Linked DNA regions of Homo sapiens: region 1 is linked to region 2. Evidence: fine-mapped expression QTL. A gene starts in region 2. The other region holds a variant in brackets. All regions are shown on one strand. Distances are from middle to middle.

Region 1 (8,552 bases), 390 kb after region 2:
TGAGGATCTATGAGAAAAGAAAATAGGCATGGAATGAAAACTCTGATATATTCTTCTTAAGTTTTCTTTGAGAAAAGGACTGACTCACCTCTGAGTCAGGTGGGTTAAGAGCAGGCAGGTAAAGGGTCTAGGAGACACTGCTTTTGTTTCTGAATCAGAGTAACCTTTTTCCGGTTCTTAGATTTTGTAGTTCGTAAGAAACCCCCAAATGACTGAAAGAGTTGTACTTTTTCTCAATGTCCCCAAGTCCTAGTCCTGAAAGAACTAAAATGGACTGTCACACAAATAATATCTTGCCACTAGACTAAGACACAGGGGAAACAGTGTAGTGAACCACACCGAGGGTAGATATTCAATCCAGATAATTGTGTCTAGGCAGGTATCTGGTACCCGATCAGCTGCACAAGGCTAATGGGTTTTTATGATTGGCAGAGGATTTCTGTCTTCAAGGAAAGATAATGCTATCAAATGTTTAACTATAATGTGTGAGGTCTGATTTGTGATTTCATTGTGATTACCCTAAGAAATAGGGTAAACAATTCAGTCAATCGTGTATTGAACAAATCAGTATTGGGCACCTTCAGTGACTGAAGTCAGGCACTGAAGATATACAACTAAAGAAGAAATAATTATTGCCCTTGAAGAGCTTATATTTAAAGGGGAAATATTAAACCAATTATTAAAGTTCCTTCTAATAAGTGCTATTATGGATATATGCATAGAGTGTTCTGGAAACAAGAGGAAATATAATTTGCTGCTTTTTTTTTTAGATTTAACTTTTTTGACCCTAGAAATGATGAATATTTAAAGAATTAACGAAAATGTCAGCCTCAAAGAAAAAAAATAGGCTTATTAAGTGTTCTATGTGTATTTTCTTCATTTTTTACATGTGAACAGATAAGTATTTGTCCTTCCTCATTGTGTAAACCAGAAATATCTCTCAAATAATGGAAAACATTCAATGGTAGTTCAACCTCTCCATATGCTATGTGTGCTCAAGGAAATTTGGACAACCGAGAAATTATTTGGAGATACCAAGATACCTAATAATACTTTAAACTGAAAAACTGGCCTTTTTAGTATAGTCTGCAATTGCAATTCTGAATCACTATATCGAGAAGATAAAGCCCGGAGACCTCCTGTGTTCTGAAAACTCAGATGTTCTAAGCTGATTATGGGAGAAACAACATCATTCCCCTCTGGTCCTCAACTATTTTCTTTATTCAGTTTCTTCTGGGAACATTAGGTTATGGCCTGAACCTAATAAAAAGGGTAATTGTGCTTATTGTGAAAGTTTCAGGTTCTCAACAGGAAGACAGACTGTTGGACAGCGATTTTGATTTTGGAAATATTCTTTCAGCTTCACAATCAGATAAGCGGGAGAAAATTAATCTTCTTAGTGGGATGCAGGTTTTGCTGAAATATATCTTAGAGATGAAATCAGTGCTGTCAGGATAAAGATGGCTCCTGGCATCTGTTTCACTGAGATAGTTGGGTCCCGTTTCTACCTACCTTTGACATCCCTGCTTACCTTTGACTGGGCTCAATCTTGCTCACCCCGGATACTCATTCCAGCTGGAAAAATACAGGATAGCTGACATATGTCTTCCTTCTTCTTTTTCTTCTTGACTTACCTTGAGTTTGAAATGACTTGGTGAATTACTCTATTTGGCAAGCACATAATAACACTCTATTCCTATGGGTGTGTGAAATATTTAATAAGAGATTTGCCTTTGTTATTTTTAGAATTGTTCCTCAATCAGTTATGCATATGGAGGCCCTAAACCACTCGGAGGAAATGGATTTAAATTTACCTTTCCAAGTTCAGTTAGTGGAAGAGTTAGAACAGAGTTCCCTGTGTACCAGATCTTATTTTGACTGACATTGAAAGAAAAACAAACAAACTTACTTTAATGTTAAACATCCATTTTATTTGAAATAATCCCAGGAAATTCTCGCCCTTCATTGCCATGAGTTCCAAGTTTTGCCAATGATTAGAGTATGAGGAAATATTAGTGTTAAGTGGCTCTCTTTTTACATTTGTAAAAGCTGGCAGCCATATTTATTCACACTTCAGGAATACTGTGAATGTGAGGCAGTATTGATTGGATCCCTCTTTAAAGCATGTGAGTTCCTTGGATGACCAAACTGTGCATTTCTCCCTCTGTCTCCATAGCACTTTGCACCATACCTAAAATGGTAGGCATCCAACAAGGCAGGCTTTTGGGATGAATAGAAGGATGTTCCATTCATAGAACATCCCTTGATAGAAAAGGTGCTTTGTCAAACCAAAATAAATACGTGTCTATTTATATTGCTATACTAAACCCAGTACTTATCAAATTATAACAAAATAATAGTGATAACAAAATAATATGTAAAATGTTGACCATTTTTGTTAGGCTGTGGGTTCCATTTATATATTTCAAATTTGAATATAAGTATGCTGGATCCAGGGAATTCACAGATCAAAATAATAAAGACACACCTGAATGCCTGACTTGGAGAAATGTTGGTATTTCACAAGCGAGAAAGTAAAAGGTAAGTATGGTCGGTATAGGAAGTTGTAGGCACTGTTGGTGAGCACAGTGGTAGGTAGAGTGGCAAGGAAGAATTGTTTCCCAGGCATTCACCTCCAAAATAAACTGTTGGTCCCCGGCTGCATTCTCCAACTTCCACCAACACTCTTGTTTTCTCAGTGTGTCTGTCTTAGGTGAATAATTTGATTAAACAGATCTAAAGTGTGAAAGAGTGATCATTTTGAAATATTTTCAAAAAAATTCGCTTGCAAATCTCAAGTTGCTGGGATGTGGAGCAGTAATCACTTACCATGTTCAGTGTGGAGTTGAGGAATGTGAGAGGGATGTCATATTATCACTGGAAATGGTGGTGGCTGGGGAGTCATATCGGGCATGGGACTTCTCTGCGGTACTTCTGGGGCCCTCTGAACCCCCTACTCTAAGAAGATCAGAACAAGAGATATCTCCACACCATGCTAGCACTACTTATTTGGAATTCAGGGAGATGGAGACCACATTCCCCGCCCCCCCCCCTTTTTTTTTTAACTTTTCTGGATGATTGTGCCAGGCATCACACATAAGAACAACAATCCTCCAACAGTTTTCTCCAATACTCTGTGAGATGCTGGTCTTACTCCATGACTCCCTTACAAGCTCCTTAAAGGTGGGAATGGAATGTTTTAAGTTAAGTACCTCCCACAGCTCTTGGAATAGAGTTAAGTACATAGCAGTTCTTAATATCTAACACTGGAGTCACTGAATTATTCTCACAGTCTGTCGAGCCCATTTTAATTTCTTGTTTTCAATATTACTATGATTTATCTGCATTCATTATATTTTTTTTCACAGAGCTCCTCGAACTGATCTATAACTGAGAAACTCTCTTGTCCTTAGACACATTAGAGTCAGGAGGAAGCAGACAATGTTTAGATTCTGTTCCCACCCTCTCCTGAGAAGGGTGGGGTGGGAGGAGATGTTGTCAGAAAGCTGCTGGGGTATGTTACAGTTATCTTCAGAGGTGCCAAACCAGCTTCCAACCCCGCCTAGTTTTGTCTCCCATTTTCTAAAACTGGGATCAGAAGTCCTTATTTGGATTTCCTAAAAATAAGTAGCTGTGGCTGAGCCCTTACTCAATTACCACAGGGAGATATTGCATATCCGGGATCACGAGATAAGTGAGGTGCCTTGCTTATAAGCCCCACGTGCTAAGACTAAACGTGGCTCTCATGTGACTTGCCTTCACAATCCAGAGCTCCCTCATGTTTCAACTTATGCTTAAAAAGAAAAAAAAGAAGTCCACATTTACAAAATCCAGATGGATTATGTCTCAACAGAAGCTGTTGGCCGGGGTTCCCAGAGTCACTAGGATAAAGCTGGCAGCTTGGCTTTT[C/T]CTAAAGGGTCCTTCCTCCTGGCTCTCCGGGTATGTCTCCGTTGTCTGGATTTTAGAATAATGTGCCTTTTCTATTTCTTCACCCTTTTTTTTAGAAAGTGGGCTGGCAACTATATTGCAGAGACTGATTTCTAAAGGCAAGCCACCCATCCTTTATTGCTTCACAACTGTGCTGGGTTTAATTATTTCTTTTTTCATTTTGTCTACAGAATGCTAAAATGTGATGGCTACATCGTCAGGATAAATAAGCTTGTGAAGTATTATTTTCTCCAACTTCATCTCTTTATTTTATCTATTTCTTTTCTGTGTCCACTGTCGCCCATTCTTCCTCAATCTCTCACATTTCAAACTGCTTTGCCCTCATTTTGTTGCAGTTCTTAAAAGTTAACAGTAGGTGGCAGTAAAATTTTATACTCGAAAGACATTCAGGCGACTCAGCAAACTGAGGAGGGTATACAGAAAGTATGGAATTGTAAATGCTAAAGGTAAAACAGCGTTTTTTTAAAATTAGTTTTTAGACTTTTTAATTGACTAATTGCATATATTTATTGTGTACAACATGATTTTTTGAAGTACGTATACATTGTTGAATGGCTAAACCTGGCTGATCAATGAATGCATTACATCACACAGTTATTTTTGTGGTGAGGACACTTAATATGCACTCTCTGTGCATTTTTTAAGAATATATTATATCATCATTAACCAAAGTCACCATGTTGTACAATGGATCTCTTGAACTTAGTCTGCTGAACTGTAATTATACGTCCTTTGACCAATATCTCCCCAACCTGAACAGTGCTATTTTCTAAAAGCCAAATATATCTAAATATAGGAATCTATTTAAAAAAAAAAAAAACAAGATATTTCAAGCCCAGCTCACATGGGGGTCATCAAGGCATATATTTGGGTAGGTGAGTCTTAAAGACTGGGAAATTATGATAATAAAGGGAATTGGTAGAAATTTGTATCAAATGAGGAACTCACCAAGCAGCCTTTATTATTTACATGCTGGAAATGATTTCCTTCCCTCCACACAAATGCTCATCTCTGTCTTCTTCCTTTCATTTTGCTCTTTCTGCACCCCTTCCCTCTGTTGGTCATGAATGTTACCTTTGAGGCTGCTTGGCATTCCCTGAATGGGTTTGTGACCACTTGAATAGAGAATGTGTTTGTCTTTCTCTCATTTCAATGCCACTCTGTGTGTTTGCTGTAACTTTCATCTCTCACTCTCATTCTCGCCTGCTCTCTTTTACTGTATGTGCTTTGTTCACTGTTTTAAGAGAAATATTCACAATTAGAAGGACCAAAAGCAAACAAAGAGAGGATTATGTAGTCGATGGAGATTTGCAGTGCTGTGGGATTTCTGGTCCTATTTTACCTAATTAGAGATGCTTTGGGGCTAGAGTGATAATGGTGAAGATGTCACACAGATCCATGGTCTCATTCTTTCTCCCTTGGGTCCTCCAAATGATGTCATAGGCCTGGCAAACTAGTTCTCCAGGATAGGCAATGCACCCTTGAGAGATGCTCAAGGGAAGAAAGCTATTGCACAGAGATGATAATCTGCAGCCATGCTTTCACAGCACAGTAAATCATACCTTTGCTCACTTGATTTGAATGAAGATTCTTGTCTACCAACAGTTTTAGGAAATAGATGGAATTTGTGTAGCATCACCACTTCACGGTAAAACAGAAGAAAAAGATGAGGTTTCTGCAGTTGTGATGCAGACCGTTGAAATGTGCCTGGAGAGAATGCCCAACTGGGAAATCGGTTTTCATTCGGGACTACGTAGGAGTGTAACAGAGGACAAGCATCATGGCTCAAGAAGCAGGGAGGAAAGTGGAACCTGGGGAATGCTGACCAGGCATGAACATTCTTACATGTTCACCATAGGAAAAAGGTGTGAGCACATGATGGGAGGCTGTTCTATCCAGGAAAGACTGGATTCCACCCAACTGTGACAAAGGTAAATGAGAAAGTCCAGGAAACTCTCAGGGCTGTGGTCAGGAGAGGGGAAAAGAAATACAAGTAAATGACTGAAACGACAGAGAAAGAACATTCAGAGCTGACATTAAGAGCTTCTCTTTCCCTTCCTAAGTAGGATGGATCATCACCTGATGTTTATAGAAAGTGGTCTTTTTGCTGTGGTTCTCATCCCCAAAGCTAGACAGTAAAGAGGAAAGACAGGCATGAAAGGGAAATTGAATAAAATACGCATATAGTGAGTTGTTTTCAGTGTGTGGACATACGTGTGCTGCTTTGTTCCCCAACAAGAACTTCACAATAAGGAGTGGTGTACTTATTTGTAGTGTGCTGTGTAGGGTGTAGAAGGAGCACGGTGTCTAGCTTGCCCAGCATTCCCGCTTTGTTTCCTTTTCTTATTGCAGGATGGTAGCCAGAAAATGAAGGGGCCTTGGCTATTTCAGTCAGGCCCGTGAATTGGATGAGTGTCTCCCACCTCTTCTACTCCATCCATAGTCTGTGGTCCTGGGGAATCCCACTGCTGAGTGTTTTCAGAATATGAATCTATGCTCTTGTGCCTATTTAAACTCTGCTGTCACACCTGTCCTGCATGTTTATCTTAAGCCCATCTCTATGTGGTGGCCCCATCCCTTGGCCAACTCCCCACCAGGTGATGGTTTAGCAGTGCTGAGTAGAAGGTATATGTGTTGGGGACACGGAATAGAGATAGACATTCATTTGTAGATGTTTCTTTACAGAAAGTAAGAGTCCCATATAGAGGCATCCCCAATATTTATCTAATCTATCCTCTGTTCTTTAGGAAAGACTAATGGATAATCTATTGACATCCTATCTCCAAAGAAGGAAATGATGTAGCCATTCTGAGGAAGGGCCAAGTAGGAAGGCCATGGGTGCTTTTAAATTAAAGCCATGAGATGATGAAAAAAAATAAATAAAGCAAAATATGCATAGAGTCTAAAAAAATAAAAAGAAAGAAAACTGGACAGTGTTATTGAAATGAAAAGGATATTGTATTAGGATCAGCTTGTAAGTTTTGATCATTTCATGGAGCTTACCAAGAAAATGCACATATCTAAAACCTATTGTAAAGTATATTATACCAGATATAAAGACTGAAATAGTCGTGACACCCATTATTTCATTTCCAGGTTTATTGACTAAAAACGATAAAACATCATAAGAGGTGCAATACTTTATAAAGTCCTTTGCCTTCCCAAATATAATACTCATTTGCTTTTATGTATTGCTCTTTTGCTGGTAGAAAACTGGGCACATTTTTCAGTGCCCTTAAGCCTTGTAATCGATCTACTAGAAAGATAAAAGGCTTTGAAGGAAAATTTGTGGATTGAAGGCAATCTAAAAAAAGTATCTTTGAGTTTCTTAGAGATGCTTGAGTTTAGATAGAGTGCTGTCTGTAATGCAGCAGCCACTAGCCAATATGTGCTGAATGTCTTGTTCCCTGATTTGTGATATCTCTATATATTAATCTAATAAAATGATTCATTCCAAGATATTATAGCTGTGTTTAGTTGGGTAATTTCATATATTCAGACTGCCATGACAACACTCCGTTCCAGAGGAACAAACTTACTTCCTTGGGAACCTGGAGACTTGTCTGAAGCTGACTGCCTCAAACACAGATATCTGTTTTGTCCTGTTTTATTTTTTGTTTGTTTGTTTGTTTTCGAAGTTTGTGACTTTAAAAATTCAAGGGACTTTTGCTTTTGGATACATAATATGACTGTGCTGGTTTCAGTATGAAAATATTTTAATTTTTACCAGTTAAATTACATAATATTCTATCTAAAATAGCATTTTGTTTTCCAAGAGCTTCCCTTTTTTTCCAAGTTTCTCTGTGTATGCTAGTTTGAAAAGTTGTCTTTATTTTAGAGACAATATGGATATTCTCATAAGCAGGGTTAATATTGGGAAGGGTACTTTCACCAGCAAATATTCAGATCAAGATTCATGGAAGAGTAAATCCAAAGTAAAATATATATATATGTGTATATATAAAGATATGTATATAATTAAAAATATGTAACTATATATTATTTTAATTTTTTATTTTTTCGAGACAGAGTTTCGCTCTTGTTGTCCAGGCAGGAGTGCAACGGTGCAATCTTGGCTCACTGCAACCTCTGCCTCCTGGGTTCAACTGATTCTCCTGCCTTAGCCTCCCAAGTAGCTGGGATTATAGGCGCGTGCCACCACGCTTGGCTAATTTTTGTATTTTTTTAAGTAGAGACAGGGTTTCACCATGTTGGCCAGGCTGGTGTCAAACTCCTGATCTCAGGTGATCTGCCCGCCTTGGCCTCCCAAAGTGCTGGGATTACAGGGGTGAGCCACCATGCCCAGCTATTATTCTAGTTCTTTAAAAATAATTTTAAAATTGACATAAAATTATTATGTGTTGTATACAACATGATGTGAAATATATATAACCATTAATTATGTAGCTAATTAACGTATGCATTACCATGCATAGTTATAAATTTTATTGTGAGAGCACTTAGCATCTACTCTCTTAGCATTTTTTAAGAATGCAGTGTATCATCCTTAACTATAGTCAGCATGCTATACCATAAATCTCCTGAACTATTCTTCCTATCTAACTGTAACTTTGTCTACTTTGAAGAGCATGTCTCCCATCTCC
Region 2 (8,552 bases):
CCAAATGGGGCATGGCTTTGGGCCCAGTCATGGAAATATTGTCCATCTGAGGTCTGAGATTATACTTCCAGGTCCAGACACTGGATGTTTCAATATACCCAGAGATGCTCATTTTCTTGGTTATGTACTTATGTTACTCAAAATCACATGCAATGCAGTTTCAAAGCAGAATGTCAATTTATTTTTGTGATTAGAATGCTTTTGACCCATTTTCAAGGATTCCACTTTTTAGTGTCAAGGAAACTAAGAAGCAGGATGAATAATTACAAGGTTACTTGGTGATCGTTGAAAAATAGAAAGGAAAATAAATTGTCTAAGAGAATGACTAATATTTTAAGTAACTTCTCAGGAGATCACCCCACAACAGAATTCATTTGTCTTTTGCTGGAATTATTTGTGCTTCCCAAATGTCGCTCTGTCTTAAGTTAGAGTTAATGTTCAATGACTGTTTTTTTAAAAACCCAATATTCCTCTGATTAGCAACCCATTAATACACTATTTAAACATATAAATACACACTTGAGAGGTCCAGCTGGCTTTTCTGATAGGCTGGGAGACATTCTGTTGGCATGTACTTATTGAATCAGGCAAAACCTCAAGACTCTAGCTAGAGCCATTCAACTCCGCTTCACTGTGACCATTTTCTTATGTATCCTTCCAGAAATATTATATCTCTATAGATCTTCTTTTCTCCATAAATGATAGCATACTACTAAATACTCTGAGCATTGTTTTTCTTTTTTTGTTAACATTATATATTTGAGATTGTTTTATATTAATGAATGTTAACTTGCCTTATGTATCTTGACAGTTCCAGAGAATTCCATTGTTTGGATGAATAACAATTTAGGTTGTTTTCAATCTTAAATCCTTGTGTATACCTACAAGTATATCAGAGGACGAATTTTTAGAAGTGAAATTGCTTAGTTAATTAGGTCATGCATTTCAAACATGGATAGATATTGTAAAATTTACCATCAGAGAGATTTTACTAGTTAAAGTATATCAAAAATTTGAGGAAGCATTTGTTTTCATACCCCCTCATCAATACCATCTATTATCAAACTGTTTGTTCTGAAAAATGACGTCTTTCATTATGTTCACAACGATGTATATTTCTTTTCTCAGTCAATAAACACTTCATGATGGTCTATGATATACACACTTATGCAATTATGTTACCTGTTTATTATTACTGAAGATATAGTGATAAACAACATATAGCGTTTATATACATGTGGGATAAATAGACACATGACAGTTGCAGTGGTCCAAGTTTAGTACAATGGTGCAATGGGAGCTATGGGAGGTACGTCCATCACAGTCTAGAAAGGGATCATCAACGGAGGCTTCTAGTGGGGAGAAACATGGGGAGAGACATGTAAACTAAAATCCGATGGAGGTGTAGAGTAGTTGGCTTGGCAAATCTTAGGAAAAGGAGAAGCAAAGAAGAGGAGACAGCAGACTCACACGTGCAAAAATGGGAATGGAGAGAGCAGAGAGCGTGTGGGGTTTGCACAAAGAACAGTTCAGAACCTCACTGTCATGACAGTATGAAGGGAAAGCGGGCAGTACTCCACCACCCACCAATGTAGCCCTCAAAATCAGCTGAGTTGTTTGAACTTTACCCTAACGGCAATATGACATAATCAAAAGATTTTTAAGTGGAGGCGTGAAAAATCAGAAGTATTTTGGGGCTCACACTTGAGATTGGATTGGGGAAGATACGGCTAAAAGTAAGTGGGAGTAATGAGGGGGCTGTCCCAGTAATTGGGTTCAGATGACATTTGCTTGATTTTAGGGATGTACGAGATATTCGTGGATCTTGTGTTGAAGCACCTAATACACGATGTCCCTTCTGAAGACGGGTGCATTAAACTGGGGTGAAGCACAAAGGCCACTGAGCAGCCTGGCTTGACTCCTGGCTTTGCCAGTTTGCATTTGCACGTGTCCAAGCCCTTGAGAGGTGCTGTGAAAACATAGAGGTGGATGAGGGAAGTGCTTATACAGCACATACCGTATAAAAAGAGGGCTTCATACTTGCTAGTTGTTTTAATTTTTATTATTACTTTTCCTCGCTGCACATGGAAATGTCTTTACCTTTGTCTTATTATAAGGTACATACGAGGAGAGTTACAGAACATGGGTGTTAGAAGAGATTTGACATATCTGTTCATTTTCCTAATTTTAGTGATGAGAAAATAAAGGGAAAGAAAGCAATTTAGATTTTTGCCAGTATTACAATTCTTTGTTCACGGGCACACCACGCCAGCCTGAAACTGTTCATTGGTCTGGTTCTCTTACCACCTCGTATATGTAGGTTTATAGTTTGGTTACGAACACCACCTTGTCTTAACCATAGATAGTTCCTGTGTTTGCCGACAGCAGCGATTTCTTGTGTGGAAACCCCTAATTTGGGAAACAATCTGTTTTAAACACTTTGTAGCACATCACTCAAACCGCACAGTTTTCGATAATCTTAGAAACAAAAACTGGGGTTGAGGCGGACAGTTAAATTCTGCAGACACCACAAGCTTGGATTCGTTTCAGCAGTCGGTCCTAAGTGGTTTGAAGCCCCTTCCGGGATGCCTCTTCTTATACGAACAACGCAGCGGCGCCAGGCGCCAGGGTCCTCACTTCTGCCTCCTGGATTTCCTCCGCCTTTCTGCTTCACCGAGGGCCCTGTGATCCGATTCCATCGAATTAACCGCTGTTTACCGAGGGTCTGCTGCGCCTAAGGAAGGCACCGGGCGACGAGCAAGGCGGGGACGCAGTTTGGGGACGCAGGGGTCCGGGCCCCAGTCCAGAGACAGGAGGTCGGCGCTTCGACTTGGCACCCGCCGACGAATTCACTCCAAGGTTCCCACTGGCGGAGCTCCTGCTACCTCCCCCCTCCCCTAAATGCAGCTCCCGCTACCTTCCCGCGCCCAGGGGCTGCTGCCTGAGCCCAGCTCTGCTCACTGGAGGGCGGCGGTGGAGAGGGTGCTGGCCCAGCGTCGGCAGCTGGGCTCAGGACCAAGGTGGGCGCCCGCCGGTCCTGGTCCCCCCAGCCTCACGGTGCAGGACCCAGGGCGCGGCCACTCGAGTTCCCCGGACGCTCTCCTTCCTGATGCTCGCTGTCCCTGCCCTGGCGTCCCCAGCCCGGGGTCGCAGCCTGTCCTCCTCTCTCTCCCCCTCCGCCGCAGCCCGTCGCCTCCGGGCAGAGTTCATGTTCAGCTTGGGCTTTCGCTCGGGATTTAGGAAGAGGCCGGCGGGGCTGGAGGGTGCGGGCCGGCGCGGGAGGGCGCGGGAGGCGGGGAGCGGCGGCCTCTGATTGGCCGGGGCGGGGGAGTGAGCGGAGTTTCCCACAATGCCCCGGTGCGGTGCAGCCGCGGATGGATGCTGCGGGAAGGGGCTGCCATTTGCTGCCCCTGCCAGCGGCGCGCGGACCTGCCCGCGCTCCTGCAGCCGCCGCCGCCGCCGCCGCCAGCCCGCCCGGCCCCTGCAGCGGCGCCGCCTGCGCTCCCTCCGCGGCCGCCGGAGCGGGCGCCATGAACCCCAGCTCCTCGGCGGGAGAGGAGAAAGGGGCGACGGGCGGCAGCAGCAGCAGCGGAAGCGGCGCCGGGAGCTGCTGCCTGGGCGCCGAGGGCGGCGCGGACCCGCGGGGCGCAGGGTCAGCCGCGGCGGCGGGGGCCGCTGCCCTGGACGAGCCCGCGGCCGCCGGCCAGAAGGAGAAGGACGAAGCGCTGGAGGAGAAGCTGAGGAACTTAACTTTCCGGAAGCAGGTCTCGTACAGGTAGGTGCGGGGAGCCGGCAGCCGAGACAGGTGCGCCGCGGCGGGAGACCCACTCTTCTACCCAGCAAGGGGCGCTTCCGCGGAGTTGGGCACCTCTCTGTTTCCACGCCTCTCCTTCCCCCTTTCCCCCTCTCCTCCCGGGGATGTCTGTCTTCTCCCCATCCTATCATTCCAGGCTGGAGGGCAGCAACGCCTGCTTTCCCCTGTGGCAGGAGAGAAGCACTGGGTCCCTAAGGTCAGAGCAACAGAAATTTTGTCTGTGTGTGTGTGTGTGTGTGTGTGTGTGTGTGTGTGTGTGTGAGAGAGAGAGAGAGAGAGAGAGAGAGAAAGAGAGAGAGAGAAAGGGTTGCAGACTCAGTGATGCTTAGTTTTCTTAAGAGAAGTCGTCAAAGTTGCCCCTAAGCAGGTGTCATCTTCAACCACCCTTCCCCCACCTTCCAGATTTCGCTGGATGAACCTTTGGCACTAACTTGACAGCTGAGATCACTCCGACAGGCAGAAAAGAATAGCACTACACTGAAGAGAAATCCTTATGGAAGTTGGACCTGCCTCGAAATCCCCCATGAAGGAAGAGTGGGTTTATGTCTGTAGATGCGCCACTGGTTATGGGGGCTCCATGCCTGCGTGCTCCTTGCCTCTCTCCTGGCTGGAGGAGGGTGTGGGGAGCCCGCTGGCAAGCTAGGGGTGAAGGTGAGAGTGGGGACCATATTTGCACCTAAGGATGAGTGTATGTGTAAGACAAGGACAGTGTGGGATCAATGGCCTTTAAATTAGGATAAAAGATAACCCCACATTGTATTAGAATCCAACAACGAGGAATTAGGATTTATTAAGGTCTCTCTCACCCCTCCCTTCCGCAGGCAAGAATAAAGACATTGACAGGTTTGGAGAGTTGTTGACACTAACCCTACTGCTTATCGATGTTAAAGGTCGAGGTGATATGCAAGCATAGGTTTACAAAGATGTACACTTGCTGGAGCTCAGAGGGTTTCTGGAAAAGGGGTCAGTGAAAACATTCTTGTAACCCTACTCTTTCTGAGTTAGTGTTCCCTTCCCAAAAACCATATAAAGTATTAAGCCTGTCACACCATGTGCTGTTATGTAAGCAAACGCAGATGACAGAGGTGTGTGGGTTTGGGAGGGTGTGTTTTATTTATGGGGGCAGGTGTGTGAATAATTGGGATCCCCATAGACATCGCCTGGCCTGGAGGCCACAGTCACTAGGGCATGTGCTCTGTGTCTAAGTGTTGACTTCTGATGACTCCTAAAACGCCTTCCTGGTGAGGTTGTTGCTTCTGCGTTCCTCCCATGCATTTTGTTCGCTGTGCGCTGAGGGAGTTCCCCACCTGAGTTGTTCTCTTAGTTACTCACACAGATCAGGTCCAAATGGATCTTTCTTTTTATACTTTGGTTTCTAAAAATAGACAGATGGTGGGGAGGGGGTAGCTCTAGGGAGGTATGCTAGGACACTGGCAGTTCTACTTCCTAGTTATGATGGCCCGTCTGGCCCCTGGGGGAACAGGGACTACATTCAGCCTAATTTAGGAGCTGTGAGTTGGAAGGGGGTGGTGATTACATGAAGCACAGTGTAGGCTGCTCCTGGCTTATTGGTATTCATCAGAGTCCTCACTGGGTAGGAAGACAAAGCCAGAGTTTGCAAGGGAAATCATTTCAGCTTGCCTCTTGTCAGGGGTCATTCTCTGAGCCTCCTTTTTTAAAATGTATGTTGTGTGGGGTTTTGGCTTTCTGAGTTGCATGCTCACACATGCACGTGTAAGTGTGTACACACACAAGCATAGACATGGACACAGACGCAGCATGTTTCTATAGAAGAATAATAACATTGCGTCTGCTTTACAATCCTTACATAGAGGTGGATTCTACTTCGTGAACATCATTTCCTTTTAAATAAAGCTTTACAGTCTCCAATTCCTGCATCAGTGTCACCTCAGGTGTCTGGTTAAAAGTGCTCACCACCCTAGACTTGCAGAATCAAACTGTCTGTGGGTGAGAATTTTTAACACGCTCCTCAGGCGATGTTTATGCAGACTAATATATGGGGATTGCCACCCTATTTTGCCCCCAAGACTAAACAATTGATCTTTGAACTCATAAACCCTCCCCATCCAAACCAGGCCAGTCAGTCTCAAAGTCAGAGGAAAGATGGTGAAAAGGAGGTGCTTCCATCTGGAGCATGTTTGTGCCTGGGTAACAGGAAATTGTCTCCATTTTGATCACTGTTACTTATTTGTTTTGGAGTAATGGTGAATGGCCTGCCCACTCGTCATGGCGGCCATTGGTGCTGGACTCCTGCAGCAGGGCTGGCTGTTTTACTGTGGGATGGATGAAGGGTGTGTAAAAAAAGAGCAGGTTTGTCAGGAGCTGAGGGTCGGCTCCTTGGTGGGGACCACACCACCTCCCTTCTGGGGGCACCTGAGGACAGTGTCTGGTGGGAGCTTATGGAGAGGAGGCAGGAAGACCTCACAGAATGGAGTCTGAGTGAAAGGACTGAGTTAGGGTATGGAGCATGGCTGCTTGCGTGAGGGGGATCATTTGAGGTGGAGGAGTGGAGATTTGCAGGTAGGCAAAAAATATCTTTTGAAGAACATGTGTATTTTTGGAATGAAACTTGACAGGCAAAAAGAAGGGGGCTTTGGGAGAGAGGGTGTGTGTGTGTGTGTGTGTGTGTGTGTGTGTGTGTGTGTAGGGGGGTCTCATCTGCTCCTTCTGTTGCTAAGGAACATATAAGCTAGGGTTTAAAAATAAATGAGGAGTGGGTGGGCATATGCAGTGACTCCTGTCTTTTTAGGAACCAGAGCCCTTTACAAAAAGCCTTTAAATAACCATTTCTGGAGGCAGATTATTCATTTTGCTTGACTTTTACTTTGTTAAGTAAAATAAACTGCTTTCTGTACTCCTAGATTTCCCCTCATTATCTATTCTGTGTTGGCTTTTTTTGAGAACCATTTTTCCCATGAGAATTTTTTCCTTTATTTCAGAATCTGCACCCCTAGAGCAAATAGTCTCTGTCGACTGTAAAGCTGAAGGTTTGAAAAGGCAGTGCGAGTGAGCTGGTACTTTTCTTTTAAAATTACTACTTCGTTTTTCTTTGCAAATTATGGTGCTGCAACAGATACATATGTGTAAATGACTATATACTGTGTAGGAACTGTTTTTTTTTTTAAACTGCTGTAAGAATTCCCATATAAGTCAGTACAATAAAAAAAAAAAGACTTCAGAAACACATAAGGGAGGGGAAGGAGAAGGTAGCTGATGTTTATTGTCTTCTATGCAACAGGCACTGGGCTAAGCCTTATTGTATATTCTGTCTTAATTAATCTTTGTGACAGTCCTGTGATGTGACTATGACTATTTCCATTTTATTGAAAATGAACTTGAGGCATAGAGCTTGGGCAGGAGGCAGAATTTAAAACACAGATGACTCCAAAGGACTGTCTCTTTAGACCGCATCACGCTGCTTCCCTAAACATTTATTTTAGGCTTGAGCTCTCTGTCCATGTGTGCATATGTGTATGCATGCGTGTGTGCAGTGTGAGTTATCTTCCCCCTCATCTGTAATACACGGCAGGTCATTACATATTATTATTATTATATATTATTGCATACCTTTTTTTGGCTTGTGGCCCTTTGTCTATATAATTTTAGGGAACTCTTCTACTATCTCAGAAATATAAATGAATATAAATTCATGATTGCAAATATATCAGTTTTGCTTCTGAGAACAAAACCACCTACATGCACCTGCTATGAAGATATCCTCGTTAGAGGTTTATATGCCTTAAAAAAAAATTTACACAGGGTTGTGTAGGCGAACCTAGGTCCAATGAAGAGCTGGCCCATCGGTACCTCTTTGGGCAGCACAGAATGAGTGATGAAGTACAATTTTGCTTGTCAGTATGTCTGGGCAGACCATTACTTATGAGATGTTGATGCCTATGATTTAGTTTCTCTGCTCATAAACCATGCTGGTAATACTAAACCTTTCTTAAAGGAAGTTTTTGGTATGAGATAGAAATAGGAGCAAGGAGTATTAAACGCTTTAGTTTGGGCAACCATGTAAAAAATGATCTGTTATTCTTTATAGGTTGATGATTAGAATGTAGTTTTTTTGCGTGTGTTTTGTCCCACAAAGTAAGGTTGTGTTATTACAAGAAAGATATTTGAGGAGTTCGAAGCCACGTAGGATAAAATGGATATTGGTCTTCCTTGCATTGTAATCAATAGTGTATGGGGGAACTTTTCTCCTGAATATCAGTATGTATCCTCTTTTGTAAATCCATTTTATTTTGTTTTTATCCGTGTTTTGCACATCTGTTAGATTTTTAAAGACTGTAGGATCAGATTAAGATCTTGGTTCTAATTTAATTCCTTTCTCAGTAATGACTTACATACTGACTGTTACTTCCTCAGTTAGGATACACACTGGGCAAGATTTCAATTCAACCACTGTCCGGAGTACTTATTCTGCTCTAAGTGATCTTTTAGAGGCTTGATTTTTACCTGGGAGATTGACACTATTGGGTCCTGTGGAATCTGGGGATAGGGAAGTTGAAGAGAGGTCTTTGCTGGTGTTCAATTCTGCTGTGGCAACAAACAACAGCATTGCCTCATGGGGCCAAATTCAATTAGACTAGAGCTAGCTCTTTCCAACACCGCACTTTCTAGTCTGAGGAAATGAGGGTTCCTAGTGAGAGCCCAGGCTGTCTACACCCTGTATGTTCGTCTGGCCTGGGATCTGAGAACATGTTCCCTACAC

Which allele goes with the higher level. Alleles are on the strand shown, and positions count from the first base shown. SD is a standard deviation of normalised expression in the study named.
In carriers of allele C in region 1, the expression in atrial appendage of the gene that starts at base 3,263 in region 2 tends to be lower than with T alone (small effect, 0.26 SD a copy in GTEx).

The links.
Region 1: its variant is fine-mapped to the expression of DGKI in atrial appendage (GTEx, PIP above 0.99).

The regions. Positions count from the first base shown.
Region 1 is chr7:137,450,141-137,458,692 of GRCh38, reverse strand. All of the region lies in intron 27 of DGKI (diacylglycerol kinase iota), which reads left to right. Among named protein-coding and RNA genes, the nearest start is that of PTN, 110 kb to the right of the region's middle. The variant C/T (reference allele first, on the strand shown) is at 3,910.
Region 2 is chr7:137,841,685-137,850,236 of GRCh38, reverse strand. DGKI (diacylglycerol kinase iota) reads left to right here and starts at 3,263. Exons shown (of 33, transcript NM_001321708.2): 1 at 3,263-3,775. The coding sequence starts at 3,375. RefSeq lists silencers at 2,460-2,754, 3,239-3,288 and an enhancer at 3,923-4,424.